Linked DNA regions of Homo sapiens. The protein of the gene in region 1 interacts with the protein of each later gene in a pairwise test. Each region holds a gene or a part of one and is shown on either strand. Other genes may lie near its edges. The genes, in order: PSMA6, SMCO3, C19orf47 and BRME1.

What was found.
Region 2: the proteins of PSMA6 (region 1) and SMCO3 interact in binary tests that used the Homo sapiens proteins (3 or more experiments, as listed by UniProt).
Region 3: the proteins of PSMA6 (region 1) and C19orf47 interact in binary tests that used the Homo sapiens proteins (3 or more experiments, as listed by UniProt).
Region 4: the proteins of PSMA6 (region 1) and BRME1 interact in binary tests that used the Homo sapiens proteins (3 or more experiments, as listed by UniProt).

Annotation. Positions count from the first base shown.
Region 1 is NC_000014.9:35,295,364-35,302,386, forward strand, and holds part of PSMA6 (proteasome subunit alpha type-6), read left to right. Parts: intron 1-7,023. UniProt on the Homo sapiens protein: Component of the 20S core proteasome complex involved in the proteolytic degradation of most intracellular proteins. This complex plays numerous essential roles within the cell by associating with different regulatory particles.
Region 2 is NC_000012.12:14,811,167-14,818,914, forward strand, and holds the start of SMCO3 (single-pass membrane and coiled-coil domain-containing protein 3), read right to left. Parts: upstream 3,017-7,748; 5' UTR 2,960-3,016; intron 227-2,959; exon of another isoform or gene 1-226.
Region 3 is NC_000019.10:40,345,380-40,353,049, reverse strand, and holds the start of C19orf47 (uncharacterized protein C19orf47), read left to right. Parts: upstream 1-4,652; 5' UTR 4,653-4,726; intron 4,727-4,760; exon of another isoform or gene 4,761-5,861; intron 5,862-7,670.
Region 4 is NC_000019.10:13,889,113-13,896,135, forward strand, and holds part of BRME1 (break repair meiotic recombinase recruitment factor 1), read right to left. Parts: intron 6,435-7,023; coding exon 6,260-6,434; intron 4,112-6,259; coding exon 4,030-4,111; intron 3,779-4,029; coding exon 3,674-3,778; coding exon of another isoform or gene 3,662-3,673; exon of another isoform or gene 2,007-3,661; intron 1,351-2,006; coding exon 76-1,350; intron 1-75. UniProt on the Homo sapiens protein: Meiotic recombination factor component of recombination bridges involved in meiotic double-strand break repair.

The DNA.
Region 1 (7,023 bases):
TCATAATTATAAACATACTTTATAATTATTAATAACATATTATTGGCAGTGTTTGCTCCCAGGGAGTGGAGAGAAAGACTTTTTCTTTTTTTTTTTTTTCCCTTTGAGACAGAGTTGCGCTCTTGTTGCCCAGGCTGGAGTGCAATGGCCGTGATCTCAGCTCACTGAAACCTCCACCTCCCAGGTTCAAGCGATTCTCCTGCCTCAGCCTCCCAAGTAGCTGGGATTACAGACATGTGCCACCACTCCTGGCTAATTTTGCAGTTTTAATAGAGATGGGGTTTCACCATGTTGGTCTGGCTGGTCTTGAACTCCTGACTTCAGGTGATCCACCCACCTCGGCCTCCCAAAGTGCTGGGATTACAGGCATGAGCCATTGCGCTCGGCCTGAAATATTTCTCTTAATGTACATATGCAGGTTGTATGTGTGTGCATGTATTCATTTGTTAAAAATTGTAGAACACCTAGCTTTGTAATCTATTTTCAGGAATTGCCCAAGTTACTAGAGGGAGGAGGTGCATTGTAGGGGGAATGGGACTGAGGCCCTAGTTGGCCAAATTCAGCCTGGCTACTTGTAGGCCCTTCTCTTCTGTTTGCTGATCCTTTGCTGGATAGGTCTGGCAAAGGAGAAGAGGAGTGGTCATTTGGATTTGCTTGACAGGTGTATGTGAGCACTGCCTGGTTGCTACAAAGAAGGGAGCGTGCTGATAGGGAACTAGAAAGAAATGGACTGGTGGAGACATACTGAAAATAAAATGTAGAAGTGTCATTGTGTATTGAAGCCAGAATTCCTGAGTTCAAGTCCTTACTGCATACCAACTCTAAGAACTTTTTATCTGTAAAATAAAGATAATAACCACCTACCTTATAGGGCTTTAAGGATTTAATTAGTTAATAAATGTAAAGCATTTAAAACATTGCCCGGTATATATAGTAAGCACTCAATGTTTTCTGGGTGTTTGTTTGTTTGTTTGTTTGTTTGTTTTTGAGACAGTCTCACTTGGTCGCCCAGGCTAGAGTGCAATGGCGTGATCTCAGCTCACTGCAACCTCTGCCTTCTGGGTTCAAGTGATTCTCCTGCCTCAGCCTCCCGAGTAGCTGGGATTACAGGCGCCTGCCACCATGCCCGGCTAGTTTTTGTATTTTTTGTAGAAACAGGGTTTCACTATGTTGGCCAGGTTGGTCTTGAACTCCTGACCTCATGATCTGCCCACCTCGGCCTCCCAAAGTTCTGGGATTACAAGCGTGAGCCACCATGCCCCGCCTTCAATTAGTATTTTCTGTAGGGGATACTGTCAAGAAGAAACAAATGGCTGATGTAAATGGAGTCAGAAATTTCACAAATGACTGAGAAGTACTTACCATTTGCCTCTTTTGCAATTTAAAAAATATTCTTATTTCAAAGCAGTATTTCTCAACCCAGGCTTCTCATGCCCTCTTTGAATCTGATTTGAAATTCAATGCATGTGTGTGCATGCATACACATACATACATGTGCATATCTACATAAATACATATATAACTACACAGAAAAAGTGATGGGATCAAATACTGCTGTATTTTCAAACCTCATATTCCCCCTCTCTTTCCCCCTCCCCCAGTGCCAAGATTTCTAATGACCCCACCCCCTTGAGGAATCACTGTTCTAAAGAGTAAAAGGTTAGGAGGCACTTTATAGTGAACCACACATCTCAATTATGTAGCCTACAAGTTTAGGGAAAAGCAAATAAGTAGCTTCAAAAAAATCTTAACAAAGTTTTTTTTTTTTTTTTTTTTTTTTTTTGCCACACAGCATTGAAATTGAATATGAATATACTTTCTTTGTCCCAGTAGAACATCCCGTTTTATTTTTATTTTTATTTTTTTGGGGGGGATTGAGTCTCGCTCTGTCACCCAGGCTGGAGTGCAGTGTTGCAATCTCTGCTCACTGCAAACTCCGCCTCCTGGGTTCACGCCGTTCTCCTGCCTCAGCCTCCTGAGTAGCTGGGACTGTAGGCGCCTGCCTCCGAGCCCAGCTAATTTTTTATATTTTTAGTAGAGACGGGGTTTCACCGTGTTAGCCAGGATGGTCTCAGTCTCCTGACCTCGTGATCCGCCTGCCTCGGCCTCCCAAAGTGCTGGGATTACAGGCGTGAGCCACCGTGAGGCCTGTTTTTTAATAACTCATAGAATATGTATCTCTCAATTCATTTTTATTTTTCAAGCCCACGTTTATATGGGAGAAAATCATATTTACATCCCGAAACTCTACAGCATTCTAAACAAAATTATGGGTGGAAAAAGTCTTGAGTTACATTTCTAATAATTGGTAGGACCTCAGAATCACCTGTAAATGCTTTGCAACACCTGATGAGTGACATAAAGGGAATATATATCTCTGCTGTTGTTCTCACAGCCTGAGCTGTGTACAGTGTGAGCCATTGTCTTGCATCGTGTGCCTGTCCTGAACATTTTGCCACCGTGCCTTTTATGTTTAGCCACTGTATTTTTCTAGTATACAAATGAATCCCAGAGAAATTGAGGAAGTGTTGGGGAAAATGGTAGGGAAGGAAACAAAGCAAATAAGATATTACTATGGAAATGACATTTCTACATACAAAATAACTGTTGATACCATTTTGTTTGAGCAAGGAAGCAATTTACTTCCTAACCTAATGGTTTGTTGTTGGGTTCAACCATGAAACTGCTGGTCTTTGACTAATTTTTAACCTGTAAAAATGGCAGTTTCGTGTGGTTCAATCTAATACTTAGGTATTTTACTGTGTATTTAAGATTTAGAAAATTGGGGGCTTGGAGTCGAGTTTAATGCATTATAATTTTTCCCATTTAAAAACTGGAAAATGGGGCCGGACACAGTGGCTCACACCTGTAATCCCAGCACTTTGGGAGGCCGAGGCAGGTGGATAACCTAAGTTTAGGTGTTCAAGACCAGCCTGGCCCACATGGTGAAACCCTATCTGTACTAAAAATACAAAAATTAGCTGGGTGTGGTGGCGTGCCCCTGTAGACCCAGCTACTAGGGAGGCTGAGACAGGAGAATTGCTTGAGCCCGGGAGGTGGAGGTTGTAGTGAGCTGAGATCGCACTGCTGCACTCTAGCCTGGGCAACAAAGTGAGACTCCATCTCAAAAAAAGAAAAAAAAAAGGAAAAGGAACTATGACTTATTATTTTCTTGCATAATCTTGGACATTCAAGAATAGTTTACTCAGTTTTAGAGTTCTGTAAGTTTCCAAAATTTTAGCCCAAACCAAAGTCTTTGATCATGTAGTGTTTAAGTACTGTTGCCAACGTTTGAATCCTGACTTTAAAAAATAAATATCATTTTAAAATGCTGCCCATAAACTATTATTTTTATCTTTATTTCTTTATTATTATTATTATTATTTTGGAGACAGAGTTTCACTCGGTTGCCCAGGCTGGAGTACAGTGGTGCAATCTCAGATCACTATAACTTCCGCCTCCCAGGTTAACTCAATTATCCTGCCTCAGTCTCCTGAGTAGCTGGGATTACAGGCGCGCACCACCATACCTGGCTAATTTTTGCATTTTTAGTACAGACAGAGTTTCACCATGTTGGCCAGGCTGGTCTCAAACTCCTGACCTCAAGTGATCCACCTGCCTCGGCCTCCCGAAGTACTGGTATTATAGGCGTGAGTCACTGCGTCCAGCTATTTATTTTTTGAGACAGGGTCTCACTCTGTCGCCCAGGCTGGAGTGCAGTGGTGTAATCATAGCTCACTGTAGCCTCAAACTCTTGCACTCAAGAAATTCTCCTGCCTCAGCTTCTCAAGTAGCTGGGAGTACAGGTATACACCACCATGCTCAGATAACTTTTTATTTTTAGTAGAGATGACATCTTGGTGTTTCCCAGGCTGGTCTTGAACTCCTGGGCTCAACTGATCCTCCTGCCTCCATTCCCAAAGTGCTGGGATTATAGGTGTGAGCCGCCGCAGTGCCCAGCCTCTTTTTTTTTTTTTGAGATGGAGTCTCACCCTGTCACCCAGACTGGAGTGTAGTGGTGCAATCTCGGCTTGCTGCGACCTCTGTCTCCTGGGTTCAAGCGATTCTCCTGCCTCAGCACCCCAATAGCTGGGATTACAGGCGCCTGCCACCACACCTGGCTAATTTTTGTATTTTTAATAGAGGCAGTGTTTCACTATGTTGGTTAGGCTGGTCTTGAACTCCTGACCTCAAGTGATCCACCCGCCTCGGCCTCCCAAAGTGCTGGGATTACAGGCGTGAGCCACCATGCCCAGCCTCTTTTTTCTTAATTGGCCTTCATATACCATAGGTTGTCCGTATCTGCTCTAAACCATGATACTACTGTTTACCCTGCCAGTGTTTCTTTAAAAGATACTCTTTAGGTGTTGAGTTGTCTAAATTCTTTGCTCTGGCAGTTTCCATTTTTCTGGAAATTATTATAAAACATTTCATGGTGGTAGTGTTAAAATGGGGATTCATTTATACAAGCCTTTACTGAAATTACAGTGCAGCTTGATGAGTACTAAATAGTATAAAAAAGGTATTACAGGAAGTGACTAACTGCCTAGGAGAGCCGGGAAAGGCTTCTCAGAGATGAATTGGCCCAGATGAAGATTAAATAAGGAAATTTGGGGGACCAGTGCATAGATCAGTCAGTGTGAATGCAGTATAGACAGTAACAACTGAAAGAGTAAATTATAGCAATATTTTGAAGGGGCTTGAGTACCATGCTAGAGTTTGGACTTTTTTCCATGTGTTTTGAACAGAGCTAGCAGGGGTCTTTAAGAATGGCGAGGTAATTAAGTAAAATAATAGGAGAGTTGAGTGTAGAAATGGGATTAGAAAGGGACTGATGGTTCACACCTGGAATTCCAACACTTTGGGAGGCTAAGGCAGGAGGATTGCTTGAGGCCAGGAGTTCGAAACTAGCCTGGACAAAATAACAAGACCTTGTCTCTGCAGAATATATAAAATGAAATTAGCCAGGTGTGGTAGTACACACCTGTTGTCCCACATACTCTGGAGGCTGAGGTAGGAGGATTGCTTGAGCCGAAAGTTTCAGGTTGCAGTGAGCTACGATCACACCACTGCACTCCAGCCTAGACAACAGAGTGAGACCTTGTCTCAGAAAAGAAAATAAAAAGGGGACTGGTGGCAGGAAGAACAATTAGAAGAGGTTTGCTCAGTATCAGTAATTCATATAAACCCTAATGAGTGAATTAAGGTAATAAGAGAGAAAGGGTGGAGGGGTCTCTTGAGCTTATTTTTCACATTTTTATTATAGAATACTTTAGACAAATGTAGATAGACTAGTACAGTGACCTTCATGTACCCATCACACAGCTTCATCTGATGTCAATATTTTGTCAGTCTTGTTTTCTCCCTTTCCCACGCACTTTCCCCGCTCTTCTAGAGTACGTTAAAGCAAATCCTAGGTATAAGAATGGACATTTCTTGGGAAAGGGCAGGAGGTTAGAGTCAAGAGTGATAACCCAGGTTTGTAGCTTGAAAAATTGAGTGGTTAGTAATACAATTATGAAATAAGGACTGTAAGAAAAGCAGGTTTATAAAGAGGAAGAGTTTATTTTTAGACATGTCTGTGGCTAATAGGCATAGGTATTTGAAGAAATAGACATTTGTAATTATAAGTCCAGAGCTAGAGATGACAGATTAGTAGTGATTATCTAGGTTATAGCTAAATCTCTGGTTTAGGGTAAAATCATCCAGGGATGGAGAAAATAATAGAATTCTGGGAAATACCAGTATTTCAGGAGCTGGCTGAAGAGATGAAAGCAGTGAAGAAGATTGAGAAGGGAAGTTCAGAGAAGTAGGAGAGGAAGAGTAGGAATGATATTCTTAACAAAGAACTTTAAATTTGGCTGAGCGCAGTGGTTCACACCTATAATCCCAGCACTTTGGGAGGCCGAGGCGGGTGGATCACTTGAGGTCAGGAGTTTGAGACCAGCCTGGCCAACATGGTAAAACCCCGTCTCTACTAAAAATACAGAAAAACTAGCTGGGTGTGGTGGTGTGTGCCTGTAATCCCAGCTACTCAGGAAGCTGAGGCAGGAGAATCGCTTGAACCTGGGAGGCAGAGGTTGCGGCGAGCCAAGATTGCTCCACTGCACACCAGCCTGAGTGACAGAGTGAGACTCCATCTCAAAAAAAAAAAAACTTTAAAATCCAGTTGCTCAGTTACACTAGCCACATTTTATGTGCTCAATAGCCACATATGACTAGTGACTATCATATTGGACATTGCAAATATAGAACATTGCCAGCATCACAGAAATTTCTGTTGGACAGCACTGGTCTATATAAAGAACGAGGGCCCCCTTAATGAATCCTGGCAAATTCACAGGTGCATTCTCTGTTGAGAAGCATTTTTTATATGTAAAATGTTTTTTATTTTGTGAGACAAAAGTTTATGTGGTAGGGAAGATACTCTTTTGTGGCTTTTACCTTTTGCATTATTTAAGCAATAAGCATGTATTCATTTATTTAGTTCAGGGATGACAGACACAAATGCTTACACAGACCAGATAAGTAATGCCAGTGAGTAAAACAGGCTGAGTGAAAGATAACAGGAAATGGTGGGACCTGTGGAAAACTGCAAAACACCTGCTCAGCTTAGGTGATTTTTTTTTTCTTTGTGGCCAGTTGCTATGTGGGATTGAAGATCAAGTGTTACTAGAATTTTTTTTTTTCTAGGAAAAAATCACATCTCTAAAGACCCTCTGCCTGCTTTTGCCATATAAGGTAACATTCACAGGTTCCAGGGACTAGGACATAGATATATTTTGGGGATGCATTTACCAACCTACCAGAGGGTTAATGATTTTATTGGCTCAAAGAACCAGTTTTTGACTTAGCTGGTTTTTCTCTTGTTGTCTGTTACTGTTTCTTGATTTCTGGCCATGTTGTCCAGGCTGGTCTTAAACTTCTGGGCTCAAGCGATCCTCCCCATTCAGCCTCCCAAAGCAGTGGGATTACAAGCATGAGCCATCACACACAGCCAGAATCACTACAAATTTAGTGGTG
Region 2 (7,748 bases), on another chromosome or scaffold:
TCCACTTGGGGAATTACCATCCACTTTTGTACAGAGTTTGTGCTATTATTTGAATATTTTCTTGTAGTTATCCATGAAATGGGTTCTGTAGTGCCCTGGAGCAGCCCATTGGGAATTGCTAGACAGCAGGTGGAGCTCTTGGTCTCTGGGTCTCCCATTTTTCACCTGGGCCTTTGCTGGACTGGAGCAGCTGTGCTTTCTCTTGCTCTACACATTTGGGCTCTGGGTAGGTAAAATTTTATTTGATGAGAGAGTTCTGTTGCTAAAACAAAGTTTGGAAATTTTTGACTTGTTATTTTATTAAAAAATGACAAAAAACATCTGAAAGTGCTGATGTCATTGGTCAGCACACCTTAAGAAATGAAAATGGAGACAAAGGTTAGCTTGAGATGGATGCTTACTGCACCTAACCTTGTTAATTTTTTTGAATTGAGAAGTCAACATTTAAGATTAAAGGGCATCTAAGATATGGTAGAAATATGCTGATAATTGTGTCTAAAAGTTAAGTTTTATTTAATGACATCATACAGTTGTTTTAGTTTTTCAGAAAAGGAACTACCTTACAAAATGAAAATGTACTGATCATCATATGTTCAAATACAACTCTTCAGGGTACTTTCGTGAATAACAGTAGTGCGTTGACTGTCAAGTGCTGTTGAACTTAGAAATTAATATCAAGGTGATTAGAGAAAGCTTCATGGAGAATGCAATATATGATTTATACTTTGATAGATGGTACATTATGGAGAAATTAAAAGTGAACGGTTTGGTAAAACGATTTTTAAATATATACTTATTACCAGTAACATATACACTTTTTTAAATAGAGGAGGAAAAACACCCATAAACCTACCATTTCACTTTTGATTTTTGTTATTCTTTTTCAAAATTTGTTTATATGCATAAGTATCTTCACAAAGTTATCATAATAGTATAAATAAAATTCATCTTTTATTCACTTAACACTTTCCCCTATTTATAGCTTTAAAAATATTTGGCCGGGCGTGGTGGCTCACGCCTGTAATCCGAGCACTTTGGGAGGCCGAGGCGGGCGGATCACGAGGTCAGGAGATCGAAACCATCCTGGCTAACACGGTGAAACCCCGTCTCTACTAAAAATACAAAAAATTAGCCGGGCGCGGTGGCGGGCGCCTGTAGTCCCAGCTACTTGGGAGGCTGAGGCAGGAGAATGGCATGAGCCTGGGAGGCAGAGCTTGCAGTGAGCCGAGATTGTGCCACTGCACGCCGGCCTGGGTGACAGAGGGAGACTCCGTCTCAAAAAAAAAAAAAATTTTATTGGTTACGTATACTATTCCCTGTCTTTACCCTGGTTCAATAAATCTAAAATTGTTTCACTATCACTAATATTCTAATGAGCATTTTGATACCCACAGATTTTTTTTCCTCCATTATCTGGATTATTTCCTCAGCATAAGTACCTAGAAGAATTACATAATTAGTGGCATAAGTAATGGGAATTAAATTTTTATTACTTTTGATATGTATCGTAAATTGCATTCCAAAAGCTTTTACTGTGCTACCCCAAATAAATTTTTATAGCAGGATACTGGGTATCCTGCTATAAAATTTTTACAATTTTTATTTTAGATTCAGGAGGTACATACACAGGTTTGTTCCCTGACTATACTGTGTGTTGCTGAGGTTTACTGTGAATGATCCTGTCACCCAGATACTGAGCATAGTGCTGGTATATTTCCCAGTCAAAGATGGTCCTGTTTAAATATTGTTGATTTGGGAAGAGTAAGGTTAAATTTCAAAAAGAGAAGTTCTTGCCTATTTGGAAATACATACTGAAAACATTTAAGATGAAATGAAATGGTCTCAGAGATTTGTTCACAAATAATCTGGAAAGAATAGTGGGGTAGGGTTATAGAGGAAAAAAGATTGGCCTTGTTTTGATAATTTTTAAAGCTGAGTTATGGGTACATGGGAGTTTATTATATTATTGTCTCTACTTCTGTGTATGTTTGAACTTTTCTTATAACAAATAAAAAAGAAAGAAAAAGAAAAACGTGACCCTGTCTAAACCTCTGATGTTTAGTCGTTAGTGCTCTCTGAGGTTTTACATTTCTTCTTGCTGTCACTTTTCTTCACTGTCCAAACAGGGTTTTGCCATCATGCACAGTTTCCTTATCTGGGAGTGTGGAAATAGGGTATAGGTAAAATCAGGAGCTTTTCAGAAGAAAATAACAGCTTCTAACTAGTTCTGAGTCTCCTTTAATTCAAATAAAAATCTGTGGCCTTTAATTAAAACAAAAATTGATCATGATGTGATGATATACTTTCTGATATAAATTCATTTAAAAAATGTTTCTGACCAGAAAGAAGAATATTAAAGTCATTCATCAGCATTTATCAAGTGCTCACTGGTGAAGCCTCTACTGTGTCCCTTGAGGCATTTGAAAACGACAATGTTCCTTGCCCTCAAGACGATAACAGCCTGTTTGGAGACACACAGCAAATGCTCAGAGATATTTAGATACAACATAATTTATGAAGGAGTATAAGTACTATACATTAACCAGTATTAGATTCCACATTCATTCTTTCATAGATAGGTACTGAGTGCCTATATTAATATTAATGACATAGAAGGAAATGTTACTATCCATGTAAACTTCACACATTCACACAGGTATCATTTCATCCTTAATCCTTCTTAGAATTGATGTCTTTACTGCTTCTCTTCCACTCTGACTTAATCAGTCCTAGAAATTGTTAATTTTCTTCCTTCTCTGCTGTCTTCAGAGAAGGCACCAGGAAAGGTTCCTTCCAAATCACAAGGAACATGTCATGGGATCCTCTTATAACAAAGCTGTTTTTTTACTTTATTTTATTTATGGTTAGGATTCAAGACTGACGGGCTAATTCAAATTCCTCCTACTACTGAGAAACAGAGTATTATATCAATACTAATAGAAATATCCACGTTGCTTACCTTGCTGTGTTTCTGAGTTCCGTGGTCCTAGCAGTTGTTTAGGAGTATTGTTAAAGTGCTTTTTCATCTGGTTTCATCTGGATATTTCTGATGGAATGTGATGACTTACAGACTTTGCTAGTCTCTGCTGGGTCCCTCTGCCTGTCTGGTTTATAGGCTATTTCTACATGGCTTGGCCCTCAGAATTCCTTCATTTCCTATTAATAAAAACTTAGTATACAGTATTAAGTTATATAAACTGGAAGACTAATAGTGTGTAAAACTTATTTTTAAATTTCTGTTCTTTAATGGACTTTTTATTGTTGAGAAGCGCTATATAACTGAGCTAATTCAATTTAGTAGAGAAGATGGCTCTTTGATTGCAGCTCTCAGATTTTGGGGTTTTATCTTGTCAACTATTCCAGATACTAAGTTTCTTTTAGCTTCTGTTGCATTTGCACCTCTAACTGTTGCTGATTATTTAAATTCTCAAGATATATAAATGCAGTTACTTGCATCCAATTTTTTTTTCTCTTCTTTCCAGCTAGGAGTTCTCCTCTTTGTCATTCTTTCTCTTCCTGTGTTTGTAAATTGTCTTGACAATATAAAAACCTTAAAGTCCAACTTCACTCTTTTCCCTGAAAGCTCAGATCAGTCTTCCCTGCTGCTTCTTCCCAGCTTCAGTCTTCAGACCCGTTAATTCCTCCACAGCAAAGACACCTGAGTGGCAGGGAAATCACTCAGCCCCAGTGTAACTTAGTGAAAGACAGCAGGCTTTACACTCAGACAGTCCTGGTTTTGTGTACTCCAAGTACCACTTACTAGTCATGTAATCCTAAGAAAGTCACTTAGCCTGAGTTTTCCCATTGGTGTAATATGAGTATTAGTTAATAATTTATGGATTAAATGGGATAGTGTTTATAAAGTAATTGGCATAGTGGCTGATATGTGGCAAAATCTTATGAAACGGTAGCTATTCATATATTAACAACAGTATCTCCTGGTGGAGGGGAGAGGAGAATGGGTGGGTACAGGATACAGAATCAAAATGCCAGACAGGCAGACAGGAAACTTTAAAATCTAAAGATGCTGCCCTGTGATTCTAAAGAAGGGCTAAGTGGGGTCACTTTTCTACTTTTGTCCCAGTGGATCATCTTGCCCTTGATGTATCCAGGGCCCCACCACGTACGGATGTGTGGCCAGTGTATCTGAACTAGGTATGGATGTTAAGTAGGATTTTAATAGATGTTTGGGGAGGATGGTGGTATAGAGGAAATAATACAGATAGAGGGAACACTGAGAGCAAAGGAGCTGAACCAAAAATTGTAGAACATTTTCAGGGAACAAAAACCAACCTGCTGGTGATACAGGGTGTAAGTGGGAGCAGTTAAGGGAAGGTAAGTCATGGAAAATTGAAAATAGTTTGTAGATAGCCTTAGATGTCATGCTAGGAAATTGTATTTCATTCTGTAGATAATAATGAACCATTAAAAAATCCTTTTAATTATGGTGTAATATTTGGAGATTTGGATTTCAGGAAGGGTACATTATGTAAACTTGATTAGTAGGTATGGACAATAAAGCATAAGTTACCAACCCCATTGCCTACAGTATGTGGACAAAATATGTCTGTCTTTTACCCTGTCTTAAAACAGTTGCATTTTGTTTCCGAAGAGGCTATTGTTGAAGAGTACCATTTAACCCACTTGTTCCTAAGGTGTTTGTTTCTCTCCTATTTCTACCCTTCTTAACATTTATTGCCTACTCATCCACTCCTTTCTCTCCTACCACATAGCAGCCTAAGTGGAGTTGCCAAAATTAAGGATAAACAGTAACAATGCAAAATAATTATCAGAGAAAAACTAGAAGCAATATTGACTTCATACTGAGCCCCCTAATCAACTTGAACTTCTTTTTTCTGCAATCAGTTTCTCAGGTTGAAAACTTGAACTTCTTAAATCTTTCTTGACTACTAAAGCCAGTATTAACGTCAAGTCAATAGTCAGAACTGAACCTTAGGAAGGAGGCACATTTTCTTAGTGTAGATCTTGGAGTCAGGGTGGTTTTAGGGAATCAGGAAGGCTGATTTGACAAGTTTCACTGCTGGATTGACAGTGGTGGGAAATGAGAGTGAAAGCAATAATATCTCCAAACTTATCTGCATGTAGCTCTCACTTGATCGTCTTTTATTTAGAATGCTTTATTTTCCCTTTTATCCTAAAGCTCATCCCCTTCTTTTCCTAAAATCTCTGCTCAAAAACCATATATTACATGACCCTGAATAAACTGCCCGATTCAATTACGATTGTTTCAACAATTTGCCAGCACTTATGAATGCTGCACTTAAAAAAAAATCAAGCAAACCTAAAAATAATCACCTTTTTGACCCAATAGCCTCCTTTATCTTTCTTCTTCACAGTTAGACTTCCCAGTTTGGTAGTGTACATGCATTGCCTCTACTTCATTTTCTCCATTAATTTTCCAGTATTTATAATCTAGCTTCTGTACATATTCCTGCCTCTTGCAAAATTGCTTTTCTAGCATTGTCAATGACATTGTAATGACTAAACATAAGAAATAATTTACAGTGTTTATCATACTTGCAGCATTTGAAATTGCTGATCAGGTCTTTATATTTTCTCTTTTTTTTTTTTTTTTGAGACAGAGTCTCACTCTGTCACCCAGGCTGGAGTGCAGTGGTGCCATCTTGGCTCACTGCATCCTCCGCCTCCCAGGTTCAAGCAATTCTCCTCCCTCAGCCTCCCGAGTAGCTGGGATTACAGGCGTGTGCCACACCCAGCTAATTTTTGTATTTTTTAGTAGAGACGGGGTTTTGCCATGTTGGGCAGGCTGGTCTCCAACTCCTGGCCTTAAGTGATCTGCCTACCTCAGTCTCCCAAAGTGTTGGGATTACACTAAAATAAAATACTTAAATATAAATCTAAGAATATATGAGCCACCATGCCCGGCCAATTTATCGTTTTTTCTTTAATGGATATGCTTTTGGTGTCATACATATCAAAGGACTAATCAGCTAACCAAAAGTTACAAGATTTTCTTCTGTATTTTCTTCTGTTTTATGGTTTTATATTTTTCATGTCCCATTTTGAGTTAATTTATGTATGTGTATGGTATGACATAAAATCAAGGTTTATGTTTTTGCATATGGGTATCAGGCTTTTCCAGCACCATTCATTGAAAAACCCTAAACTTTCTTTTTTTGTTGTTGTTCTTTCTTTGTTTTTTGTTTTTATTTATTTCTTCCAAAACAAAAGGGAGGATACATGTGCAGAATGTGCAGGTTTGTTACACAGGTATACATGTGCCATGGTGGTTTGCTGCACCTATTGACCCATCCTTTAAGTTCCCTCCCCTCGCCCCCCACTCCTCAACTGGCCCTGGTGTGTGTTGTTCCCTTCTCTGTGTTCATGTGTTCTTATTGTTCAACTCCCACTTATGAGTGAGAACACGTGGTGTTTGGTTTTCTGTTCCTGTGTTAGTTTGCTGAGGATGATGGCTTCTGGCTTCATCCATGTCCCTGCAAAGGACATGATCTCATTCCTTTTTATGGCTGCATGGTATTCCATGGTGTATATGTAACACATTTTCTTTATGCAGTCTATCATTGATGGGCATTTGGGTTGGTTCCATGTCTTTGCTGTTGTAAATAGTGCTGCAATAAACATACATGTGCATGTGTCTTCATAGTAGCATGATTTATAATCCTTTGGGTATATACCCAATAATGGGATTGATGGGTCAAATAGTATTTCTGGTTCTATATCCTTGAGGAATTGCCATACTATCTTCCACAATGATTGAACTAATTTACATTCCCACTAACAGGGTAAAAGCATTCCTATTTCTCCACACCCTTGCAAGCATCTGTTGTTTCCTGACTTTTTAATAATCTCCATTCTGACTGGCATGAGATGGTATCTCACTGTGGTTTTGATTTGCATTTCTCTGATGATCTGTGTTGTTGAGCTTTCTTTTTTATACATTTGTTGGTCGTGTAAAGATCTTCTTTTGAGAACTGTCTGTTCATATCCTTTGCCCATTTTTTGATAGGGTTGTAAATTTGTTTAAGTTCCTTGTAAATTCTAGATATTAGACCTTTATCATGTAGGTAGATTGCAAAAAATTTCTTTCATTCTGTAAGTTGCCTGTTCACTCTGATGATAATTTCTGTTGCTGCGCAGAAGCTCTTTAGTTTAATTAGATTCCATTTGTCAATTTTGGCTTTTGTTGCAATTGCTTTTGGCATTTTTGTCATGAAGTCTTTGCCCATGCCTATGTCCTGAATGGTATTGCCTAGGTTTTCTTCTAGGGTGAAAACACCTAAACTTTCTATGTTAAATTGCCTTTGCATCTTTGTTAAAAATCAGTTGACCGGCCAGGCACAGTGGCTTATGCCTGTAATCCCAGCACTTTGGGAGGCTGAGGCAGGCAGATCATGAGGTCAGGAGATGGAGACCATCCTGGCCAACTTGGTGAAACCTCTTCTCTACTAAAATACAAAAAATTTAGCTGGACATGGTGGTGTGTGCCTGTACTCCCAGCTACTTGGGAGGCTGAGGCAGGGGAATGGCTTGAATCTGGTTGGGGGCGGAGGTTGCAGTGAGCTGAGATTGCGTCACTGCACGCCAGCCTGGTGACAGAGCAAGACTCTGTCTCAAAACAACAACAACAAAAACAATCAATTGACCACATTTGTGGGTCTTTTTCTAGACTTCCTGTTCTGTTAGGTTGGTCTACATATCACCAATACTACACTGTCTCAATTACTGTGGTATATCTTAATATTAGA
Region 3 (7,670 bases), on another chromosome or scaffold:
AGCTTGAGGGAGGCGTGAGCCTGCAAAAGTGCAGGGTGTGGAGTGAGACAATGGGGCTTCTTGCATTCATTTTTGATTTTTTTTGAGACAGGGTCTCCTCGCTTTGTTGCCCAGGCTGGAATGCAGTGGTGGGAACACATCTCACTGCAGCCTGGAACTCCTGGGCTCAAGTGATCCTCTCGCCTCAGCCTCCTGAGTAGCTGGAACCACAGGTGTGTGCCACCATGCCCAGCTAGTTTTTTATTTTTTTGTAGAGTTGGGATCTCACCACATTGCCCAGGCTGCTATTGAACTGCTGGGCTCAAGTGATCTGCCTACCTCAACCTCTCAAAGTGCTGGGATTACAGGCATAAGCCACTGTGCCTGGCCTCAAAGCACTTAATATATTTGTTTTATTTTTTTAAATTGGACTTAATATATTTAATTTTCACAACAGTCCTCTTAAAAATCCCACTTAGGGAATTAAGGATCCAGAGAGGTGAAGTCACAGGTATAAAGAGAAATAGGATATGTGGTAAGCCTGGAACTGGACTTTGGTTAAAAAAAAAGAGAGAGGAAATGGAGCAAGGATTTGAACCCAAGCTGCCTCAAGCTTCCAGGGACAGATGCCACATGACAGCTGCCTCTCCTGTTGTTCATCATCTGTAGATCCCCTGCTGCCTGCCCCCCACCGTCTGGGACAGCAGCTGAACCCCGTGGTGGCGCCGGCCTCTCAAAAATTCCGTTAGCATTTCCCTAGCCTGCCCTCAAATTTTATGACTATTTATTTATTTATCTGAGATGGAGTCTTGCTCTGTTGCCCAGGCTGGAGTGAAGTGGTGTGATCTCGGCTCACTGCAACCTCTGCCTCCCGGGTTCAAGCGATTTTCCTGCCTCAGCCTCCTGAGTAGCTGGGATTACAGGCACAAGCCACAACGCCCAGCTAATTTTATATAATTTTGGTAGAGATGAGGTTTCACCATGTTGGTCAGGGTGGTTTCGAACTCCTGACCTCAAGTGATCCGCCCGCCTCAGCCTCCCAAAGTGCTGGGATTATAGGCGTGAACCACCACGCCCGGTCTCGATCTTTGACAGGGATATTTGAAACTTTCTCCCAACATAAAGGATATGTGAGTGCGGACTGAAGAAGATTCTGGCTCTCTTTCCAATAAGGCTGCCTCTCACTAGTCGATCCTGGGTAGAAGTTCTGGAGCTGCCACAGCTCAGGGTGATGGCTTCATGTCACACTGGACCGCATCCCTCCTCGGCTCCACATCCTCCTGTGGCACCCACCTCACTGGGAGTAAAAGCCAGCCTTCTGCATGGCTCACAAGGCCTTCCACGATGTGCCCCATCACCCCTCCAATGTCGTCTCTTGCCCCTCTCCTCTCTCACTGACCTCCTTGCTATTCCTTAAATATTCCAAGCTTGCTCCTACCGCAAGACTTTTGCTTTTGCTGTTCTCTTTGCCCAGCATGCTGTTCCCCCAGAGGGCCATGTCACTCTTTCTTTCTCTCTCTCTTTTTTTGAGACAGAATCTCGCTGTCGCCCAGGCTGGAGTGCAATGGCGCAATCTCAGTTCACTGCAACCTCCGCCTCCCTGGTTCAAGCGATTCTCCTGCCTCAGCCTCCTGAATAGCTGGGATTACAGGTGTCTGCCACTATGCCTGCCTAATTTTTTGTAATTTTAGTAGAGACGAGGTTTCACCATGTTAGTCAGGCTGGTCTCGAACTCCTGACCTCAGGTGATCTGCCAGCCTTGGCCTCCCAAAGTGCTGGGATTATAGGCATGAGCCACTACGCCTGGCCGTTTTTTTGTTTTGTTTTGTTTTTTTGTTTTGAGACAGGGTCTCCGTCTGTTGCCCAGGCTGGAGTGTATTGGCAAAATCATGGCTCACTGCAGCCTCGAACTCCCAGGCTCAAGCGATCCCCCCACCTCTCAGCCTCCCAAGTAGCTGGGACCACAGGCGCACACCACCATACCTGGCTAATTTTTGTAGAGATGGGGTTTCGCTATGTTGCCCAGGCTGATCTCAAACTCCTGAGCTCCAGCGATCCACCTTCCTCAGCCTCCCAAAGTGCTGTGATCACAGGCGTGAGCCACCGTGCCCAGCCCTACTCTCTCTTCTCCTTCAAGTATTTGTTTCAAATGTCACCTTCTCAGAAAGCTTTCCCTGACCACCCTATTTAAAACTATAACCTTGACCCCACATTCCCCATGCCCCTTCTAATACATCCAATAATCTACTTACCTATTTACCCATTGCCTCTTACCCCCACTAGAGTGTAGTACACAGTCCATAAGGCCAGATTTTTTTTTTTTTTTTGAGATGGGGTCTCACTCTGTCACCCAGGCTGGAGTGCAGTGGTGCGATCTCAACTCACTGCAGCCTCCGCCTCCTGGGTTCAAGCAATCCTCTCACCTCAGCCTCCCGAGTTGCTCAGATTTTAGGGGCGCGCCACCATGCCTGGCTAATTTTTGCATTTTTAGTAGAGATGGGGCTTCACCATGTTGTCCAGGCTGGTCTCAAACTCCTGGTCTCAGGTGATCCACCCACTTCACCTCCCAAAGTGCTTGGATTACAGGTGTGAGCCATTGCGCCAGGCCGAGATATTTTTGTCTGTATTGTTCATTGAGGTATCCCCAGTGTCTAGCAGTGTTGGGCACATATATAGTACATGCTTAAGAATTATGTGCAGAATGATTAATTTGTGTTTTCATTCCCATATTGCAGATGCAGTAACTGAGGCGCTGGGAGGTTAAGTTAGTTGCCCAAGATCATGCAGTTTTTTTTTTTTTTTTTTTTTTTGAGACGGAGTCTCGCTCTTGTTGCCCAGGCTACAGTGCAATGGCACGATCTAGGCTCACTGCAACCTCCGCCTCTCAGATTCGAACGATTCTCCTGTCTCAGCCTCCCGAGTAGCTGGGATTACAGGCATGTGCCACCATGCCTGGCTAATTTTGTATTTTTAATAGAGATGGGGTTTCTCCATGTTGGTCAGGCTGGTCTCGAACTTCCGACCTGAGGTGATCCGCCCGCCTCGGCCTCCCAAAGTGCTGGGATTACAGGCGTGAGCCACCGCGCCTGGCCTATTATTATTATTTTTTTTTGAGACGGAGTCTCGCTCTTGTTGCCCAGGCTGGAGTGCAATGGCGCGATCTCGGCTCACTGCAACCTCCACCTCCCCGGTTCAAGCCATTCTCCTGCCTCAGCCTCCCGAGTAGCTGGGATTATAGGCATGCACCACCACGCCCGGCTAATTTTGTATTTTTAGTAGAGACGGGGTTTCTCCATGTTGATCAGGCTGGTCTCGAACTCCCGACATCAGGTGATCCGCCCACCTTGGCCTCCTAAAGTGCTGGGATTACAGGCATGAGCCACCGCACCCGGCCGAGGGTGACATGGTTAATAACAATATTAGCCAAAAACACCATGTCAAGCTGAGCCTACCACAAGAATAAACTCACAGAATCGTCACACTCAGCCCTGATGTGGATGTCCCCGTGTGCATTTTGCAGATGAAGCTGGGATTGGAAAGGTGCCATAAGGCAGTCAAGGTATCCAGAGGTGTAGTGGTGGGGCTGGGATTCTGACACACCCCAGGTAATGGGCTGCAGTACCCCGTATGTTATGTGAGATGTGACACGGGGAAATGACGAAGACACGGAGGGAAGAAAAATAACTGTAAGGCTGGGTGGCTCCTTATGGGGAAAACTGGAAGCATGAGGAGTGGATGGTGACTGGTCAGAGGAACAGTGATGCCAAGGGAGGGACAAAGACACAAGGGGTAATGATGACGTAAGAGTTGCATTAGCGCGATTTAAGAAGAGCGATGGGGACAGTAGCCATGCGAAGGTGACTTGGGGGTATGATGAGGGTTTAAAGAGAAATGAGGATTTTATAAAGGAGAAATGGCAACAAAAGCAGGATGCAGGTAACATATGGCGATGACGAATTTAAAGGGAGCGATTACGACCTATGGTGGCAAAGAGGGCTTACAGGGAACGAAAGCGAGTTAAGGGCGTTGATGACAACAAGAGGAGTTGTGAGGATTTAAAGAGGGTGATGGCGACAGAAGGAGTTGTGAGGATTTAAGTGGGATGAGACAGAAGGAGAGGAATGGTGACATAAAGAGACCGAGGACGACATAAATTATAGCGTGGAAGACAACGCTATAATTATATATATTATATTCCATATATTATATTCCATATAATATATATTATATTCCATGCATTATAGCGTGGAAGACAACACGAGGAGGGTAGCCGAGGCGCCGCGCCCCCAGATCGCACAGTACCTGCACTCCACGTCTCCCACTCCGAGACCCAGCCCCACACGCACCTTCCAGGCTGTATCCCCGCCTGACGGCCCCTCCTAGCCGCGCGCAGGCGCACTACGGCTAGACTGCAGGCCGGCGGGGGCCAGGCATGCGCCTTTCTCATTGGCCGCGCCGCTTGCTAGCTTCGGGCGGAGGGGAGCGCCGGGCCGACGGTGGGCGGTCACGTGACGGTTACGACTGCACTCTCGCTGGTGTCGGTGGGCGGTCACGTGATGGTTATGGCCGCACTCTCGCTGGTGGCGGCCTGTTGGGGTAGAGCGGCCGCGGACGAGTCAGTTCAGCTTCCGGCGGTGAGAGGATGCTTCCGGGGCGGGCAGCCCGGGCCGGGGGAGGAGTGTCTGACAGTTGGCGCCGCCGGGAGGGAGGGCGGGCGGCGCGAGTGGGCGCGGGCCCGGTGGGCCAGGTGAGGCGCGGGCCGGGGGTGGTGGGACTGGGCCGGTTGCGGTAGGGACGGGTGGCGTCCGGGTGTCTGGACTCAGTTCGGGCTCCGTTGTACGGCTTCGGACTTACGATTTGTTTCTTTGAGCCTCAGTTTCCTCCCCTGTGGAATGGGGGTTAGAATCCGACTGTATCACCGGCTTTATAAATGGGAGTGAGAAGTCAGGTCGTGTACGTTGGATGCCTTAGCTCAGCGCCTCCGCATAACGCTCACTTCGTTACTATACTATTATTATTAGTATTGATGTTTGAGCGCTTAGTATGAAAAATTGTTGGGTTTGGAAGCCGTCGAATTTTGGTTCAAGTCCCGCTCCACTGTGCGGCAGTGGGGCCTGTGTCTTCGCTTCCTTGAACCCCGTTTTTTCTCATCTGTACAATGAGAGCAGATAGTCCCAATATCATAGGGTCGTCTTGAGGATTCTGATGAAATCTGTGTGTGTAAAGATTTTAAGCAGAGGGGCTGGCACAGTGAGAGCTCGTGGATTGGGACTATAATGATAATGATTCTGAGAGTCATTGGTGTAGCTGGGAATTCCAGGGAAGCTGGGGGAGAAAGCTCAGAGACAGCAATAGGAAAAACTTAGAATTGGAGCCGGGGAAATCGACATCCTGTCACTTACTATTTGACCAATTTTGCTGAGTCCTGAAGTACTAGTTTTTTTCTTTTTCTTGATAATGACTAGTGCATTTTTTTCCCCAGTAAGTTAATTTGAGAAGGCAAATTTGCATTGCTGTCTTCTTCTTTTTTTTTTCTTTGAGACGGAGTTTCGCTCTTGTTGCCCAGGCTGGAGTGCAATGGTGCAATTTCGTCTCACCGCAACCTCCGCTTCCTGGGTTCAAGGGATTCTCCTGCCTCAACCTTCCGAGTAGCTGGGATTACAGGCATGCGCCACCACGCCCGGCTAATTTTTTTTGTATTTTAGTAGAGACGGGGTTTCTGCATGTTGGTCAGGCTGGTCTCGAACTTCTGACTTCAGGTGATCTGCCCGCCTCTGCCTCCCAAAGTGCTGGGATTACAGGTGTGAGCCACCGTGCCCGGCGCATTGCTGTCTTCAATGGAAAACTAGCATTGCTGGCCATGAGAGGAAGGAAAAGTTCAGGTAAAATACAATGGAAACTGAACAGCCCATTACATTGTACACTGAAATGGAAAGATAATTGAAAAGGAATACTACGTATTCCCTTTGAATAGGGATACTGTTCAGAACCTGTACTGTGTGATTCCCTGTTGTCAGATCCCATGGACCCCCATTAAGTTGTCCTTATACTTGTTCCCAGCTCACACTTTGTATAAAACTAGCATTAAGTCAGTGACTGTCCCACTGTTTCCCTAGCTTACTGAAGATTTGTTTTATTTGATGCACACTTAACATCGCACTTAACCACCTGCCGTGCATCTTTGTTCTAAGGACTCTGTTTATTAACTCGTTTAATCCTTGTAACACCTTTAAGAATGGGTCCTTGGCTGGGCGTGGTGGCTCACGCCTGTAATCCTAGCACTTTGGGAGGCCGAGACGGGCGGATCACGAGGTCAGGAGATAGAGACCATCCTGGCTAACACGGTGAAACCCCGTCTCTACTAAAACTACAGAAAATTAGCCGGGCATGGTGGTGGGGGCCTGTAATCCCAGCTACTTGGGAGGCTGAGGCAGGATAATTGCTTGAACCTGGGAGGCAGAGGTTGCAGTGAGACGAGATCACGCCACTGCACTCCAGCCTGGGCGACAGAGTGGGACTTCATCTCAAAAAAAAAAAAGGGTCCTCTTTTTTTTTTTTTAAGATGGTGTTTTTTTATTTTTATTATTTATTTATTTATTTATTTATTTATTTATTTATTTATTTATTTGAGACAAGGTCTCGCTCTGTTGCCCAGGCTGGAGTGCAGTGGTGCGATCTTGGATCACTGCAACCTCTGCCTCCCGGGCTTAAGCAATTCTCCTGCCTCAGCCTCCTGAGTAGCTAGGATTACAGGTGCCCACCACCACGCCTGGCTAATTTTTGTATTTTTAGTAGAGAGGGGTTTCACTATGTTGGCCAGGCTGGTCTTGAATTCCTGACCTCAGGTTATCCACCTGCCTCAGCCTCCCAAGGTGCTGGCCAAGAATTGGTAATCTTACTTTTTTTTTTTTTTTTGAGATGGAGTCTCACTCTGTTGCCCAGGCTGGAGTGTAGTGGTACAGTTTCGGCTCACTGCAACCTCTGCCTCCTGGGTTCAAGTGATTCTCCTGCCTCAGCCTCCCGAGTAGCTGGGATTACAGGTGCCTGCCACCATGCCCAGCTAATTTTTTGTATTTTTAGTAGAGGCGGAGTTTCGCCATGTTGGCCAGGCTGGTCTCAAACTCCTGACCTTGTGATCCACTGCCTTGGCCTCCCAAAGCGTTGGGATTACAGGCATGAGCCACTGCGCCCAGCCACCTTTCCTTTTTTTTTTTTTTTTTTTGAGACTGAGTCTTGCTCTGTTGCCCAGGCTGGAGTGAAGTGGCGTAATCTTGGCTCACTGCAACCTCTCCCCCCCCCGCCCCGGGTTGAAGCGATTCTCCCACCTTAGCCTACTGAGTAGCTTGGATTACAGGCATACACCACCATGCCTGGCTAATTTTTGTATTTTTAGTAGAGATGGGGTTTCACCATATTGGCCAGGCTGGTCTCGAACTCCTGACCTCAGGTGATCCACCCGCCTCAGCCTCCCAAAGTGCTGTGATTACAGGCGTGAGCCACCACGCCCAGTTTTTTTTTTTTTTTTTTTTTTTTTAACAGTGACAGGGTCTCGCTATATTGCCCAGGCTGGCCTCAAAATCCTGGGCTCCAGAGATCCTCCTGCTTCGGCCTCCCAAAGTGCTGGGACTACAGGTGTGAGTTACTGTACCCGGCCTTACCATTCTTATTGTGCAGTTGAGGGAAGTGAGGTC
Region 4 (7,023 bases), on another chromosome or scaffold:
CGAGTGAGGAGGGGGCTTGTGGAGGTTGGGTGCCTGCCCTGGGCAGGTATGTCTGTCACTCAGGGCAGCTCTCACCTGCTCAGGTGGGGCTTCGAAGTCAGAGGCGTCCAGGGCATCCTGTATCTGGCTGTCCAGCAGGAAGTCGAGTTCCACAGCTAAAGAGTCTGCCCAGGTGCCCTGGTCTGCAGAATGAGGCAGGTGGTCTCGCTGCCCTGCCAGCTCTGAGGTGGTGTCTGGAATGCCCTGCTGAGCCCCGGGCTCCTGGAGAGGGTCGTCTGCTATTTCTCTGTGTTCCAGCACAACAGAGGCTTGCGGGGACACACGGAACCCCTCGAGGTCTCGTTCGAGGTTCTGGCCACCTAACTCGGCTTCCTCTTGAGCAGGACCTGGCTCCTGCTTCTGATTGACACATGGACCTGTGTCCGGGGATGCATGACCGGAATCTCCAGCACCCATCATGGACTCTCCGCTCCCAGGTGCCAGAGCCAGGGAGGCTGTAGGGCCCACTAGGACATCGCCGGGGGGCTTGCCATCCTGCCCTGCCTCCCCACTTTCTCCTGTGGTTTCCCCAGTGAGCGAGGTGCAGCCTGGCAAGGCCCTCCTGTGGCCTCCATCAGCGGCCTTCCTCCTGGGAGAGGCAGGTGATATGGCACTGGCCTGCCCATCGGGCCCAGCCACCTCCAGAGCCCTCTCTTCCAGCTCAGTGGGGTCTGTGCTCAGGTCTGCGATGACAACCATCCCGAGGGAGGAGCATCCCAGGCTGCTATGAGTCCCTTCCCCTTCCCTACCCATCCTGCTGGGGGTCTGCTGGGGGTCAGGGGAGCCCTGGGCCACAGACCCGGGTTCCAGGCACCAAGAGGCAGGGCCCAGTCCTGGAGCAGGGCCTGAGGTAGGAGCTGATGCTGGGGTACAGGGGACACCGTCTCCCTCCTCCTGGGGCCCTCCAGGCAGGCCAGCCCCTGCTGTCCTTTGGGCCCCTCCCTCCTGGGGGGCTCCTCTGTCTGGCTTCTCCCCTTCAGAATCAATGCTTGGTAGGTGTTCCTTTTGGCCACCGTCACCTGGAACCCTGTCTGTCTCAGGCTTGCTGTCATCGGCCCCTTGTTCTGACAGGTGGTCTTGGCTGGCCCTCTGTGAGGCGGACAACCCCGTCCCCCTGTCTGGAGGGTCATCAGGCTGAGAATCCCCACTGCCGGGCACCGCCTGCACAGGGCTCTGGCTGCTCTGCTCAGGGCGGGCACTGTCTGCCTGCGTTGGGTCCCCCAGCTCCGTGGCCTCCTGGAGGGGGACCCCCAGGGTCTCCACTAGCAGCTGGCATCCTGGACTCTGGGCGCTGGACTCTGCGATTGTTTCCTGTGGACAGAAAAAGACTCAGCCCCGGGGCCTTTGATAACCAAGTTCTCCGAAGAGTTTTCTATTAGGTTGGTGTAAAAGTAATTGCGGGTTTTGTCATTACTTTTAATGGCAAAAATTGGCCAGGCGTGATGGCTCATGCCTGTAATCCCAGCACTTTGGGAGGCCGAGGTGGGCGGATCACTTGAGGTCAGGAGTTCAAGATCAGCCTGGCCAAAATGGTGAAACCCCATCTCTACTCAACAAATACAAAAATTAGCCAGGCATGGTGGCAGTTGACTGTAGTCCCAACTACTCAGGAGGCTGAGGCAGGAGAATTGTTTGAACCCGGGAGGCGGAGGTTGCAGTGAGCCGAGATAGGACTGCACTCCAGCCTGGACGACAGAGTAAGACTCTGTCTCATACACACAAAAAAATTAGTGGCAAAAACTGCACTTACTTTTGCACCAATCTAATAGTTGTCACCACCCTGTTCAAAGACTCAGATATTGGCACCGGCCATCATGCATGGAAATAGGCATCAGTACCAGGGCCGGCGACTGGAGGGGGATCTGGAAGCACAGAAACCTCTCCTTCCACCAAGCTCTTCTCTCCACCAGCACCAGGTACTCAATCAGATCAGGGATATGAAAATCAAGGTGGCATTCAGACCACACCAATGTCAATTTCCTGTTTATTATTATTATTATTATTATTATTATTATTAGACAGAGTTTCACTCTTGTTGCCCAGGCTGGAGTGCAATGGTGCGATCTTGGCTCACTGCAACCCCCACCTCCCGGGTTCACGCAATTCTCCTGCCTCAGCCTCCCGAGTAGCTGGGATTACAGGCTCGCGCCACCATGCCCGGCTAATTTTGTATACTTAGTAGAGACAGAGTTTCTCCATGTTGACCAGGCTGGTCTCAAACTACAGACCTCAGGTGATCTGCCCATCTCGGCCTCCCAAAGTGCTGGGATTAAAGGCATGAGCCACTGCGCCCAGCGGCTATTATTATTTTTATTATTTATTTTTCATAATTTTGAGACAGGGTCTCACTCTTTCGTCCAGGCTGGAGTGCAGTGGTGTGATCACGGCTCACTGTAGTTTTGACCTTCCTAGATTCAGACGACCCTCCCACCTCAGCCTCCTAAGTAGCTGGGACTACAGGTACACACCACAACTGGCTAAATTTTGTGGTTTTTTTGGTAGAGATGGCGTTGTGCCATGTTGCCCAGGCTGGTCTTGAATGCCTGGGCTCAAGTGATCCTCCTGCCTCGGCCTCCCAAAGTGCTGGGATTACAGGTGGGAGCCACTGCACCTGGCCAAGTTTTAAAACAATTATTGTAGCCTGGACGCAGTGGCTCATGCCTGTAATCCCAGCACTTTGAGAGGCCGAGGCAGGCGGATCATTTGAAGTTGGGAGTTCGAGACCAGCCTGGCCAACAGGGTGAAACCCCTATTCTAATAAAAATACAAAAATAAGCCAGGTGTGGTGGTGTGCACCTGTAGTCCCAGCTACTGGGGAGGCTGAGGCAGGAAAATCACTTGAACCCAGGAGGTGGAGGCTGCAGTGAGCCGAGATCACACCACTGCACTCCAACCTGGGCGATAAGCAAGACTCCATCTCAAAAAAAAAAAAAAATTATTGTAGAGACAGAGTCTTGCCATGTTGCCCAGGCTGGTCAAGGGAAGTCTCCCAAAGTGTTGGGATCATAGGCATGAGCCACTGCACCTGGCCAATTGCCTAGTTTTGGTGATGGACTATAGTTATGCATGGTGTTACCACTCGGTGAAGCTAAAACAGAGAACACCGGAAATTCACTCTGTACCATTTTGTGTTTTTTTAAAAATTGTGCTAAGGCCGTGCGCAGTGGCTCATGCCTGTAATCCCAGCACTTTGGGTGGCTGAGGCGGGCAGATCACCTGAGGTCAGGAGTTCAAGACCAGGCTGGCCAACATGGTAAAACCCCGTCTCTACTAAAAATACAAAAATTAGCTGGGCGCGGTGGGCAGGCGTCTGTTATCCCAGCTACTTGGGAGGCTGAGGCGGGAGAATTGCTTGAACCCAGTGGGGCAGAGGTTGCAGTGTGCCAAGATGGCACCATCGCACTCCAGCCTGGGTGACAAGAGTGAAACTCTGTCTCAAAAAAAAGAAAAAAAATAAAATAAAGAATTGTTGCATAGTCAACACACATCCATAGCGCAATGTACTGAAAACGGTGGGTGGAGAGGTGCAGGCCTCACCATTGCCAAAGAACTCCAGGGTTAAATGGGGCTGCCGAGGCTGGGCCAGGAGGCTGCACCTGCGCTGGGCTCAGCCTGGCTGATTTTAGAGCCTTACCAGGCTAAAGGCCCCACTCCCACGGTCCTCATCCTTCATCTCTTCTTTTCTTGTCACTGTCTTCCTGGATTTTGCAAACTGGGGAACAAACCTCCCGAATGAGTTCTGTAAACCGGATACAAGAACAAAGCAGCAATAAAGATAAGAGAGGAATGAGGTCTTAGGAAAAAAGCAACCCCAAACCTGCTCCTTTCTTGTAGCCTTGAGAGAACTCCACCCTTGCCCTCTGGGCACATTCCCTCCAGCCCCTGTAGACCATGAGTGAGCAATTGGTGACAAAGAAGGGAGACACAGAGCCGGAACTTTAAGGGAGGCAGTGGTGCTTCTATATCCACGAGGCCACAGGACGAGCTCACCTGGGAAGGAGGAAGGGGAGCTGGCTCCTTTTCTGGTTGACGGAGGAGCCGGCAGGGAGATCCTGTTTCCTCATCAGGGGAGCTATGTAGGAAAAGATAAAACTGAAGGAGATCTGCCCGGGTGCGGTGGCTCACACCTGTAATTGCAGCACTTTGGGCGGCTGAGGCGGGCAGATCACCGAGGCCAGGAGTTCGAGACCAACCTGGGGAACATGGTGAAACCGTATCTCTACTAAAAATACAAAAATTAGCTGGATGTGGTGGCGCACGCCTGTAATCCCAGCTACTTGGGAGGCTGAGGCAGAATGGCTTGAACTCAGGAGATGGTGTTTGCAGTGAGCCAAGATTGTGCTACTGCATTCCAGCCTAGGTGAGAGAACAAGGTTCTGTGTCAAAAACAAACAAACGAGGGGGATCTGAAATCCTCCTAGGTTGTCACTCACCTATCGAGACAAACGCAAAACAAAATCCAACAGGAAACCAGTGCTAAGAGTCTCCTAGGCTGGGCGTGGTGGCTCATCCCTTTAATCCCAGCACTGTGGGAAGCTGAGGTGGGTGGATGCCCAGGAGTTTGAGACCAGCCTGAGCAACATAGTGAGACCCCTTTTCTACAAAAAATTTAAAAATTAGCTGGACGTGGTGATGTGTGCCTGTGGCCCCAGCTACTTGAGAGGCTGAAATGTCACGATCATCTGAGCCAGGGGAGTTCAGGCTGCAATGAGCTATGATCACGCCACTGCACTCCAGCCTGGGTGACAGAGCAAGACCCTATCTCAAAAAAAAAAAAATGTCTGCTAGATGGAAGGCCCTGGAAAACCTGCTTTGAAAGAGTGGGATGGGGATGGAGAAGCAGTGACCTGAGAACATTTAACTGTCAAGGAGGGTGCAGAGTCCCACCTGGAGAATACACTGCCTTAACAGGTGACTTTGTTACATTTATAATCCCAGGAATTGCCTTCTGAACTGGGAATAGGGATATTCTCATTTGGACGGACACTCCAGCCCTGACACGGCACATTCTAGGGAAAGGAAATTGTGGATGCAAGAAACATAGTGTCTTTAAAAACTAGTGAAACTTAGGGTTATATTTAAATAAATAAGGGCCAGGCGTGGTGGCTCACGCCTGTAATCCCAGCACTTTGGGAGGCCGAGGCGGGCGGATCACCTTAAGTCAGGAGTTCGAGACCAGCCTGGCCAACATGGTGAAACCCCGTCTCTACTAAAAATACAAAAATTAGTTGGGTGTGGTGGCGGGCGCCTTTCATCCCAGCTACTCAGGAGGCTGAGGCAGGAGAATCGCTTGAACCCGGGAGGTGGAGGTTGCAGTGAGCCGAGATTGTGCCACTGCACTCCAGCCTGGGTGACAGAGAAAGACCCTGTCTCAAATAAATAAATAAATAAATAAGGATATGTATATCGTTTTGTTTTGGCTAATTATTTTATTTCTTGTAGATATGGGGTCATCCTTGTTATGTTACACAGGCTCCTCTTGAACTCCTGGGCTCAAGCGATCCTCTTGCCTCAGCCTCCCAGTGTGCTGGGATTATAGGCATGAGCCACTGCACTCAGCCCTGATTGCTTTTCTTTTTTTATTGGTCGTTAGCTCACATAACAACAATTCCTTTGTTCCCTTCTTGATTAAGGAAGAGGAGGAATGTGGAAGAAGGATGGGTTTGACCAGCAGACAGAATATGAGTTCTGTAACCCTGAAAAATGCAATGTTATCTTTGCCCACAGTTAAAACTTTTTTTTCTTTTTTTAGATGGAGTCTCGCTGTTGCCCAGGCTGGAGCGTAGTGGCATGATCTCAGCTTACTGCAACCTCTGCCTCCTGGGTTCAGTCGATTCTCCTGCCTTAGCCTCCTGAGTATCTGGGATTACAGGTGCGCCACCACACCCAGCTAATTTTTGTATTTTTAGTAGAGACGGGGTTTTGCAGTGTTGGCCAGTCTTGTCTCAAACTCGTGACCTCAAGTGATCTTCCCCCCTCGGCCTCCCAAAGTGTTGGGATTACAGGCATTAGCCACCATGCCCGGCTAAAACATCAACCCTTCTTACCAGCGAGGAAAGCTAGGAGAAGCGAGATCCGAGGGCCCTGAGCTCTGGGAGGGAGTGGGTCACAGCACTAGATAGGTTGTGGGTCTCTTTCCCAAAGCATTGCTGTCTGCTGAGCTGCTGTGCTATGTGGACTGTCAGTGGGGAGACCTGCCGGAATGTTCAGAGCCACCTACCTGGAGACGGCCTTTCCTGGTTCCTCCCCGTGCTGCTGTGTAGAGGGAACAGGTCCCAATTTGCCCTCTGGCTCCTCAGGGTGATGTAAACAGCCCAACATGGAACTCTGGGGGTCCCCATAGAAGTCTCCTAGCCTTGGGTTCTTTAGGGGTTTTGGAGGACAGAGTCCCTCTCCTGTTTTAGAGACAGAGGAAGATGAAGGGGTGGGGGATACAGCCACTGCTCATGGCTGACAACTCAGGTCTCCCCCACTACAACCAGGCTGCACGCGAGAAGGGGCCGAATCCATTTCACTCTCTGCGGGGTCCCAAGTGCCTGTAAGAGCATCTTGTACACTGTTGGTGCTCAATAAATAAATTATCCATGACTGGATAAATGCACACCACCAAGGGCAGACAAGACTAAATTATGTACCATTCTAATGTGCTGAGACATCTGCAAAATAGCCATCCTGGGAAAACTGGGACTCACAGCCACCGGGTGCTGAAGAGGTGATGCTTTGGCCACGTCCTGGCCCCTTGCATTTCTGCACTAACTTCCCCATCACTGAAAGCAATTGCGATGTGTCTTCTTCTGGCATTTAAGAGGCTAAAGATGCTTATTGACATCTTTGTATATATAGCGCAGTGGCTCACGCCTATAATCCCAGCACTTTGGGAGGCCGAGGCGGGTGGATCACCTAAGGTCAGGAGTTCAAGACCAGCCTGGCCAACATGGCAAAACCCCGTCTCTACTGAAAATACAAAAATTAGCCGGGCATGGT